Homo sapiens: one gene and its partners. The protein of the gene in region 2 purifies or fractionates together with the protein of the main gene of each other region. This does not show direct contact. Each region holds a gene or a part of one and is shown on either strand. Other genes may lie near its edges.

Region 1 (3,652 bases), on a different chromosome or scaffold from region 2:
CCTGCACCCACCCTGTGCCCACCTGCACCTGCCCTGCACCCACCTGCTCTTGTCCAAGGATCAGCACGCCCCCGGGCTTGATGGGGTGCCAGGGGGCCAGGTTCTCCCCAGTGCCCAGCTTCTCTCCGTCCTGGAATGCCTCCCACATGCCATCCCGTGTCGTCCAGGTGACACAGATGTGGTGCCACTTGCCGTCACTGACAAACAGGGGCAGCTGCGCAACCTGTGAGCAGCAATGTGCAGGTAAGGACCTGCTGGGCCCACGCCCTCAGGGTCCCCCAGGGCAGGAAGCAGGAAGGACACCCCACAGTCCCCCTGGGCCACACTGCTCCTCCTGTCACCGGGGTCATGCGTGGAGAACATGCAAGGGGGCAGCCTTGGTGGAAACCCTGACCCCAGAGCAGCCCTCACATTAATGGGACACCCTTGGTGCCTGGCGTGGCTGAGGACCGAACAGATGTGAGGGTCAACACCCCCACGCTGGCCCTGAGCTCTCCATGCCAGAGAAACTCGGGAAGTCAGCGTTCCATGGGGCCAGTCTCCTTGGAAAACAGACGAGAGATCCTCATTCCTCATGCCAAGTCCCAAACCTCCATGATGGCACGCAGGGATCTGTGTGCTGCGGGTGTGCCCCGTCCTCCCTGCGCAGCGGCACGTGTGTGAGTATCTGTGTGAGCAGGGAACTCACGGACAGCGTGAGGAACTGGGGGGAGGACGCTGCCACTGGCCGGGTCCCTGGCGGTCCTGCAAGCACTTTCTATGCAGGCTCGCCTATGAACCACCGCGTTGTTGCTGCTGGTCTCCTAGCAACCCGAAGCCTCCCTCCCAGGAATTCGATGTTTACAAGCCGTCCAAACCCAGAGGACAACAAGGCTCTTAGCCCCACTGTGTCATAGGGTGTTATTTAGAACAATTATTTAACCCCTGGCTCAGGCAAGGGGGTCTATCTAGGAGGAGCCCAGCAGGCTGATGCCACAGCGTTTTTTAAACCTCGACAGACTCCACCCAGGGCAGTTCAGTGAGGACAAACAGAGTGAGGGGCTGAACTGCCCCCGCCTCCACCAGGGGTGGCCCGGGTGGCAGGGAGTTTGCGTAGCCACTCAAATGCCCAAATCCGGACAGGTTCTGAGAATGTTCTTTTTGTTATATGGAGTCTGCCATTAGAATGAAAGTTTGGAAGCAGGGCTGTGAGAGGTCCCCAGGAGGCCCAAAGTGGCCTTTTTTTTTTTTTTTTTTTTTTTGAGACAGGGTATCGCTCTGTCACCCAGGCTGGAGTACAGTGGTGCGATCATAGTTCATTGCAGCCTCGACATCCTGGGCTCAAAGCCATCTTCCTGCCTCAGCCTCCCGAGTAGCTGGAACTACAGGTGCACACCACCACACCTAGCTAACTTTCTAATTTTTTGTAGAGAAGGGGTCTTGCTATGTTGCCCAGGCTGCTCTTGAACTCCTGGGCTCAAGCAATCCTCCTGCCTCGGCCTCCCAACACACTGGGATTACAGGCATGAGCTACCATGCCCAGCCCTTGAGAAGACCACTCCTGAATGCCAAAACCAAGCAGTCTATTAAGAAGGGGCATTTGCTCTGGAAAAGGCAAGACCATGGGTATACATAACAGGTCAGCAATGGCCATGGGCTGGGGCTGGGATCAGAGTTAACTATGAAGGGGTATGAGGGGGTTTTGGGGGGTGATGGAACTGTTTTATATTTTTTCATCGTGGTGGTGGTTACACAACTGTGTGCATTTGTTAAAACTTCCTGAATTGTACATTAAAATGGGTACACTTTGCTGTATGTAAATTATATCTCTAGAAACCTGACCCCCACCAAAATATGCTTGTGGGGAGTCTCTTACACTGAGACACACACACCCCCTTAATCAGTGTGGCCCTGGGGAACAGCCCTCACTGACCGGCCTGAGGTCCTCTCTCAATCCAGGCTGCACACGGAGATCTGTTCCTTCTGCCCTTCCATGGCCTAGGTGCCTGGACCTTCTGCAGCTTGGTGGTTGGACTCACAGCTCGGCCCCTCCCCACCCCGCCCCTGTGAGCCGCCCGGCGTGTGCAAAGCTATCCCCACCTCGAGGAGGACAGCCCCGCAGTCCCATGTCTGGGACACTGCTGTGTGGCCCGAGGAGGGCGAGGACGGCTGGGGTGGGGGCTGTGGCTCCCTCCACCACATGATGGGTTCTGGGGAGGGTGGCGGTGCAGGCGGGCCTCACCTTGTCGTTGATGAGCAGCTCGATGGGGTTGTTGCCCCACTCGATCAGCACGATCTCGTTGGCCTGCCCTGGCACCGCATAGGAGAAGGGGGTGCCAATGCCTGGTGAGGCGCTGGACCGCAGCCACAGGCAGATGGTGAAGGCGTACAGCTCAGGCAGCGTCTTCTTGATCTTGCCGTATAGGTAGTTTGTGCGGAGTGGGAGGGACACCTTGAACGCATCTGGTGACTTAAAGGCGCTATTGCCTGGGGGTTGGGAGGAAGAGAGGCCAGGAGTGCGTTAGGCCACCCCACCACCCACCAGCACGGCCCAGAGCCACATCTTGCTAGACCCACAAGAAGGTCCCTCACACAGCCTTGATGGACCCTCCAGCAAGCGACCAAAGACCGCTCCACACCAGCCACTGATAAAAGGCTGAAGTCTGGCAGGATTCAGGACACAAGATGGAGTCCTTGTCCTTAGGGAGCTTACATTCAGGCAGGGAAGGTGACATGAAACCAGCAGCAGGTACGCGAGGGAAGTCCAGGCAGTGGCTCCTGCTAAGACGGGGAGTGGCCGGGGGAGGGAAGGCAGAGGATGCAGGGAAGGCCTGGAAAGACCTGCAGAAGAGAACCCCAGACACAGGTGACAGCAAGTACAGGGCCCCAAGGACGCCCAGAAAAGGAAAGAAAAGGAAGATTTTGTGGGCACTGCATGGGGCACGTTAGAGAATTTAGCTCCATCTTTTAGGACAGGAAAAGAGGCCTCTTGAAATCTAGAAGAAAAAAAGCTCTTGGATGGGTGCAGTGGCTCACACCTATAATACCAGCATTTTGGGAGGCCGAGGCAGGAGGATTGCTTGAGGCCAAGAGTTCGAGACCAGCCTGTGCAACATAGCAAGACCCTGTCTCTACAAAAAATTTAAAAAATTAGCCAAGTGCAGTGGCTCATGCCTGTAATCCCAGTGCTTTGGGAGGCTGAGGTGGGAAGACTGCTTGAGCCCAGGAGTTCAAGAACAGCCTGGGCAATACAGCAAGACTTCATCTCTACAAAAAATATAAAAATTAGCTGGGTAGGGTGGCACACACCTGTGGTTCCACCTACTCAGGAGGCTGAGGTGGATCGCTTGAGCCTAGGAGGTCCAGGCTGCAGTGAGCTATGATTGCATCACTGCACTCCCACCTGGGTGACAGAGGCTCTGTCTGGTTCCTTCTAGTTAATACTCTCTTTTCATAAGTCATATTAGGTGACTAGAAAGCTTGAGGAAGGAGCAGAAGAAAGGTAGATTTAATTTTCTTGTGTTAAGCCAGAAACTGCGTCCTTAGCCACATCTTATAACTTCAGATATTTCCTTGAAATCTTCGCAGGATCTAGGAACCCTGGAGACTTGGGCTTAGAAGAAGGAAGTCTTACAGGGACCCAGGCACCCAATAAACACTTGTCAAGTGAATG
Region 2 (3,652 bases):
GGCACAGCCTGATCTATTCAAGCTACTTGGTATTCTTGGGACATAAAGGATGGGTGAGTGATGAATTTGGACAGGTTCACCAGCACTAAATGGTACATCCCATGTGAAACAGTTTGGATTTTTTTTTCCCTATGAGCAATGGGAAGCACTGCAAGGTTTTGAGAAGGATGGTAATATGTCCAGATTTGCACTGGAAAAACGTCAACCTGGTGGAAGCTGAACCAGAAGAAGGTACTCCTAATGAGGACAGAAACACCAATGATAACACAATGGCGAAAGTCCCAGTAAGAGATGGGTATAAATCAGGGGTTCGAAAAGTGTGGTCCCAGACCATCAGCATCACCTGACAACGTGGTAGAAATGCAAATTTTCAGGACCACCATAGCCCTACTGAATCCAAAATTATGTTTTAACAATCTGCTTCAGCAAGCCCTCTGGGGGTTCTGATGCCCAGAACTAGTCATCTAAACCAACCATTGGCAAACTCTAGCCTGTCAGCAGTGTCTTTTTAATAAAATTTATTTTATTATGAGCGTAGCCATGCTCATTAGTTTACTGTCTTTTTCTTTTGCTTTATAATTACGAACAGAGTTGAGTAGTTGTAACAGAGATCGTACAGCCCCAAAGCCTAAGATATCTAGTTCTTTGTCCTTTAAGAAAAAAAATTAAGCTAATAGTTCTCAGCCCAGATGCCAGTAGATCCACCTAGGCATTTAAAAAAGAATACTGATGCCAGACACCCTCACCAAAAAAAAAAAAAAATCACAGTTCTGGAGGTGGGTCCCCAGGCATCAGTATTTTCAAAGCTCCTTGGGCGATTCCAGTGTGCCCCCAAAGTGGAGAAACACTGGGCCCAGCTAAAGCAGCAGTGAGAGCTGGGAGGAATAAGGACATTGGGGCACTAGGAGATGTGTGAAGAAGTGGGGCCTCTGACCCCAGACCAGGAACCGGGCAAAGCAGTAAAGTGGAACGTCACTGCTGCCCACCAAGCCCTCATTTGTTAGCCCCCATTTCTTCAGTGGCTGCCCCAAACACTCCCTTCTGTCTCTCAGCTGCCCTCTTGTCCACAGGCCAGTCAAAGAGAACTGCCTGAAGTTTCCAGAATCTCATGATTTTGTGTCTCCATGCCTGCAAACCCTATTTGCTTGGCAAACACCTACTCATCCTTCAGGATGAAGTTCAAGAGCCATCTTCTCACAAAGCATCTTTTGATCTTTTCCCCACAGATCTCTTCCCTCCCCCTAGAAGATTCCTTTTCCCTTCTTTTTGTTCTGCCCCCAACCCCAGTTCTCAGTACCTGCTTCTAACCTATCAGCCTTATACCTGTCTGTATGTCTTTCATGCAAGTCTGTACTACTAGCCTGTAAGCTTCTCAAGGGTACCTATCACACCTTATTCACCTTTTTACCCAGCACACCACTGGGCCTCAATAAAGCATCGGGTGAGGGCATGAATGCTAGGTACTTTGTTAAAGGCCTTACATGTGTGAACTCATTGGATCCTCACTGTGATGCAAATATTATTGTCTCCCCCTTGCAGATGAGAAAAGTGTAGCTCAGAGAAGGTAAGTAACAGGCTCAAGGTCATACCATTTGGGGTATCAGGAAGTCAGAAATAAGGCTGTGTGGCCCACTAGCCCATGCCGTCCTTATCACACACGTGCACCATTTACAGTTGGTTTCCCGTGTTCATTTGGTCACCGTGACCAGGTTATAAGCAACTTGAGAGCAGGAACTTCCCACCTCACACCATCTCTACAACTGCCCAGTTTCCTTGGGCCCATTTCCCTGGATTTGGTCAAGGAGATGCATGTTGCAGTAAAAAAGAGGCTGATGAGATGGAAGACTCTACCCTCTCAAGAGACTGTGCCCTCCCCAAACGCGACTCCCCTCTCCCACTTACTTTGGGTTCTTTGTAGCTGTTCCTGTGAAGTAATGACCACATGGAGGGTCTTCAGGCGACTCTGCTCCTGCTGGATTTCCATGGTTAGAGCTTTGGTGTTCTCTAGATCCCCTCTTAACCTCTGGATCTCGGCACTGGCCTTCTGCAGATTGCTGTCTAACATCTGGGTCTGGGAAGTTAAGGCTGAAGCATTCTTCATTCCTTGTTTTAGGGTCTGTATCTCTCTGCTGGCATTTTTCATATGACCATTTAAGACCTGAATCTGGGCATTTAAGGTATTCACATTTTCCATCTCTGACTTGAATACCTGAATCTGAGTATCTGTCTGGTCCAGACGGCCATTTGCTTTTTGGGTCTGGGCTGTGACCATTTTCAAATCCCTTTTTAACACGTGAATTTCATCACCAGCTCTTTCCAAATGACCTCTTAAGAACTGGATCTCAGCACTAGTGTTGTCAAAACTGCTTTTTATAAAGGCCTGGGTCTGGGAGTTTAAAGCATTTGTGTTCTGCAAATTTTCCTTTAGTCCCTGGATCTCAGCATTGGCTCCTTCCAAACTATTTCTTAAAACCTGGTTCTGGGTCCTCAAGTCATTGACACTATCTAGATGGCCTCTCAAAACATAGATCTCAGCATTAGCGTTCTTTAAACTGCTATTGGCTAACTGAGCCTGGGTATTTGCCGTTTCCAAACTGGCATTCAACATCTGAATTTCAGAGTTTGCATTTTCTAAGCCTCTGCTTAGCACGTGGAGCTCAATGCTGGTGTTTTCTAAACTGCTTTTTAAGAAATTCAGCGTCTGGAAAGTTAAAGCATCTGCCTTTTCAAGGTCTTCCTTGAGCCTCTGGATCTCAGCATTGGTTCCCTCCAGGGAACTCCTTAACATCTGTGTCTGCAAACTCAATGTAGTGGCATCCTTTAGAACTCCTTTTACCATCTGGATGTCAGCATTGGTGTTTCCCAGATGATCACCGAGCACCTGGAGCTGCGAATTGACATTGTCCACTCTGCACTTCAACATCTGGATTTCTACTACCCAGGCACTGGAATTCTCCATGTGGCCTTTAAATGTCTGGATAAGCTCTCGCATTTCTGCCTCCCTGCCAAAGTGGTGATGATCTGGAGGGAGGAAGTGAAGAAGGCAGCCAAAGAGGCCCATTATGTAGGGTAGCATTTTATGGGCCACCCAGAGTGTTTCTAACATTTCCAAGGGAAATGGGTACTGCACAGCCCTCAGTGCTCCCCCAAGCACCCTCCTGGTCACACAGCCACCCAGACCCTGGGGACGGTCCACCTGAGAATGTGGGCCAAGAAACAAAGATCTAATTCACTGTTACACACAAATGAAGGGGTCAGAAGGATTGAAATGCTTGCCTGCTGTAAGCCAGCTGCCACCAGGAGTCATGCTGGTAAGGCTTGGATTATTTTGTCGTTATAATTGCTCAACTTGAAAGTAACTGATTTTATCATTTAGAGCTGTTGAAGTTTAATTTTACTGGAATTTCACCACAGATGGGTCATTATGGGAAAGAAAATAGGTATGAATAAAGCCTGTGGTTAGTCCTACATTATATTTGTACACCAAGCATAGAGCCTCTTGATTCACCATTGTTACTTGATAAAAACCACCACAAACATAAGTTTTATGATGGCAAATTCCATGGAGAAGAAAACACAAAGGAAAGAAACAGAAACAAAACAAAATAGGTGTGCTGGGAGGAAGTACCCTGTTCAATCAACAGGGCTATGA
Region 3 (3,652 bases), on a different chromosome or scaffold from region 2:
GGGTTTTGTTTACAGTGGTGATGAGGAAAGAGTTATTCTCCAAAGTTTCTTTCAATTGACTCTGCCTGTCCACCAGAGCATCCCCGCTCGCCTGTAACTTCTCCAGCGTATCCTTGTTCTTGCTGGTTTTTTCTGTAATCTCACGAAGTTGCTGACGGAGATCTAGAATGTCTGATCTGAAGGTGGAGAGTTCTGAGTTGGTGCTGATAGCTTTCTTCCCAGTTTGGTCACCTGGAATAAGAAATATCTGTGACTTATATTGGTGGTATGGAGAAGTGTTCAGGCAAGGCCAAAGATCCCGAACACACTTAATCGGTATGCACTGTATTTTAGATGCAAAATTGGCAGTATAAGCGGACAGCTCTGCATTAGTAAAATGTACATATCTATTAAAACTGGGTCCTGGGGAATCGGAAAAGAAGCTCAGAACTAGGAATGACAAACTTGGCTGAACATTTTTCTCAAAGAGGGAGGGGGAATTTACTAGATTTTAGGGCAGTGGGCAGGCTGTCAAGAAGAAACTAACCTTTTAAATTTCCCAAATTTTTTTTTAATGAAAGCAAAAATCAAGGAATAGAATATGCTAGGATCTTTCACTTTATAACTTAATTTCTACAATTCTATGTAGTTTAAAGTATTTCAAAAATGCTCAGTAAATTCCTATTTATGTGACAGTTTTTAATAAAGGGTATTTGTGTTTTTTTTCAGTCAGGATTGATCTTCAGATATTATTTGGCACATAATAGTTTTCTTGGCAGGACTTAATTCCAAAACTGACCCTTAACTTTAAAATTTAAGCATTTGAATTAAATCATGAGGGGAGACTCAACATGCAACACAAAAATTGAATGTCCTTCCGGGTGAATGGGGAGTTTATAGCAACATCATTCTAAGAAGCTGTGGTCATTTATGTAGAGTCAGGGGATTTCATGGTTTAGTCTTGTCACAGATTACCTAATTTTTTCAGGTCACTTTCCACTGCTGTGAGCTTGTCATCATAGGTTTGGCGAGATGTTTCCATGCCACCTGTGACATTGTCCATTTTCTCTACAACTAAGATTTGGAAAATGATGCATTAGTATACATATCTGCTCATATTTTATTTTTCAGTTTCAAAACAAGAGATCATTTCATTATGGAACAAAGGAAACAGATTGAACGAAAACAGTGTAACTGAAATCAAATATAGGAAAGAAAAGCCATCTTTTTGGAAAAATAACTTACTTGTCACAAAACCCAGGGGTACAATTTACTTAGTTGAGAATTGTATGTTCTTAACTATTCTTATGATTCTGTAATGCCTTGGATGTTTCAGAAATCATTTGGAACTAATTTAAAAATTTTCATGCATTTTAGAAGTCCCTAATCTGCTATTTCCTATATTAATTTCCATAGATGAAGGCAAGGCACACTGTGATAATTTACAAAATGTTGTCACTCATCAGCTTCCCTAACATTCTTGGCAGGTGGGACTCATTTACCTAGAAGAGGATTCCATTGGCAAGGAAAACCCAGCTCAATTCTATACACAAAATCGGCATAGAAAGGTTGCAAAGTCAAGAGTGTCTGCCACTTTCTGTTATGAGTTCCACCACAAGGCCCTGAAAATCTGCTTTTTGTTAGTGACAACTGATTCTGTAGTTTGTCAGTTCTCAAGTAGATGCCTGAGTGGTGTTTCCAAACAATGATTTGCCAAGAAGTATTTTTTGGTAGTATTTTCTTGATTGCATATGATAGGGAAAGTAATGCCACTGATAGGGTTTGGCTGTGTCCCCACCCAAATCTCACCTTGAATTATACTCCCCTAATTCCCATGTGTTGTGGGAGGGACTTGGTGGGAGATAATTTGAATAATGGGGGTGGTTTCCCCTATACTGTTCTGGTGGTAGTGAATAAGTCTCACAAGATCTGATGGTCTTATCAGGGGTTTCCACTTTTGCATCTTTCTAATTTTCTCTTGCCGTCCCAAATGTTAACCCCCAAGACAATGGGGAAAATGTCTTCAGGGCATGTCAGAGCCTTCCTGGCAGCCCTTTCCATCACTGGCCTGGAGGCCCAGGAGAAAATGGTTTCGTGGGCCAGGCCCAGGGTCCCCATGCTGTGTGCAGCCTAGGGACTTGGTGCCCTGCTTCCCAGCCACTCCAGCCATGGCTGAAAGGGGCCAATGTGGAGCTGGGGCCGTGGCTTCAGAGGGTGCAAGTCTCAAGCCTTGGCAGCTTTCATGTGTTGTTGAGCCTGTGAGTGCACAGAAATCAATAATTGAGGTTTGGGAACCTCCGCCTGGATTTCAGAGGATGTATGGGAACTCTTGGATACCCAGGGAGAGGTTTGCTGCACGGGTGGGATGTGCATGAAGAACCTCTGCTAGGGCAGTGTGGAAGGGAAATGTGGTGTCGGAGCCCCCACACAGAGTCCCTACTGGGGCACTGCCTAGTGGAGCTGTGAGAAGAGGGCCACCGTCCTCCAGACCCCAGAAGGGTAGATCCACTGACAGTTTGCACCGTTCACCTGGAAAAGCCACAGATGCTCAACACCAGCCATGAAAGCAGCAGGGAGAGAGGCTGTACCCTGCAAAGCCACAGGGGTGGAGCTGCCCAAGACCATGGGAACCCACCTCTTGCGTCAGCATGACCGGGATGTGCGACCTGGAGTCAAAGGAGATAATTGTGGAGCTTTAAAATTTGACTGCCCTGCTGACTTTGAACTTGCATGGGGCCTGTAACCCCTCTGTTTTGGCCAATTTCTCCCATTTGGAAAGGCTATATTTACCCAATACCTGTAACCCTCATTGTATCTAGGAAGTAACTAGCTTGCTTTTGATTTTACAGGCTCATAGGCGGAAGGGACTTGCCTTGTCTCAGATGGGACTTTGGACTGCAGACTTTAGGGTTAATGCTGAAATGAGTTAAAACTTTGTGGGACTGTTGGGAAGGCATGATTTGTTTTGAAACGTGAGGACATGAGATTTGGCAGGGGCCAGGGGTGGAATGATACAGTTTGGCTGTATTCTCGCCCAAATCTCATCTTGAATTATATCTCCCAGAATTTACATGTGTTGTGGGAAGGACCCAGTGGGAGATAATTTGAATCATGGGGGCGGTTTCCCCCATACTGTTCTCATGGTAGTGAATAAGTCTCACGAGATCTGATGGGTTTCCACTTTTTCATCTTTCTCACTTTCTCTTGCTGCTGCCGTGTAAGAAGTGCCTTTTGCCTCCCACCATGATTCTGAGGCCTCCCCAGCCATGTGGAACTGTAATTCCAGTTAAACCTCTTGTTCTTCCCAGTCTCGGGTATGTCTTTATCAGCAGCATGGGAACGGACTAATACAGCCACACTAAATAAAAGCTTCAGTTCTTATTCATTTTCAGAAGGCAGTAATTCTCTACAGTTATGAATTCAAGTACACGTTTCTAAAATGTTAAATAAGAGGATGTTTCTCCAAAAGTGATTTATGTGAGATACAGCTTCTAGCAGCTTGGGATCAAGTCTGACTGTCCTTCTTAGTATCAATAGCTTAAAAAAAAAGACTTCAGACCGGGCATGGTGGCTCACGCCCGTAATTCCAACACTTTGGGAGGCTGGGGTGGGTGGATCATTTGAGCTCAGGAGTTCAAGACCAGCCTGGCCAACATGGTGAAACCCCATCTCT

What was found.
Region 1: the proteins of CLEC4F (region 2) and NPTX2 purify together in Homo sapiens (affinity purification with mass spectrometry; one large-scale study listed by BioGRID and IntAct). This does not show direct contact.
Region 3: the proteins of CLEC4F (region 2) and COLEC12 purify together in Homo sapiens (affinity purification with mass spectrometry; one large-scale study listed by BioGRID and IntAct). This does not show direct contact.

The regions. Positions count from the first base shown.
Region 1 is NC_000007.14:98,623,736-98,627,387, reverse strand, and holds part of NPTX2 (neuronal pentraxin-2 precursor), read right to left. Parts: intron 2,467-3,652; coding exon 2,222-2,466; intron 224-2,221; coding exon 44-223; intron 1-43. UniProt on the Homo sapiens protein: Likely to play role in the modification of cellular properties that underlie long-term plasticity. Binds to agar matrix in a calcium-dependent manner.
Region 2 is NC_000002.12:70,814,092-70,817,743, forward strand, and holds part of CLEC4F (C-type lectin domain family 4 member F), read right to left. Parts: intron 3,398-3,652; exon of another isoform or gene 3,107-3,397; coding exon of another isoform or gene 3,022-3,106; coding exon 1,903-3,021; intron 1-1,902. UniProt on the Homo sapiens protein: Receptor with an affinity for galactose and fucose. Could be involved in endocytosis.
Region 3 is NC_000018.10:347,111-350,762, forward strand, and holds part of COLEC12 (collectin-12), read right to left. Parts: intron 1,054-3,652; coding exon 955-1,053; intron 232-954; coding exon 1-231. UniProt on the Homo sapiens protein: Scavenger receptor that displays several functions associated with host defense. Promotes binding and phagocytosis of Gram-positive, Gram-negative bacteria and yeast.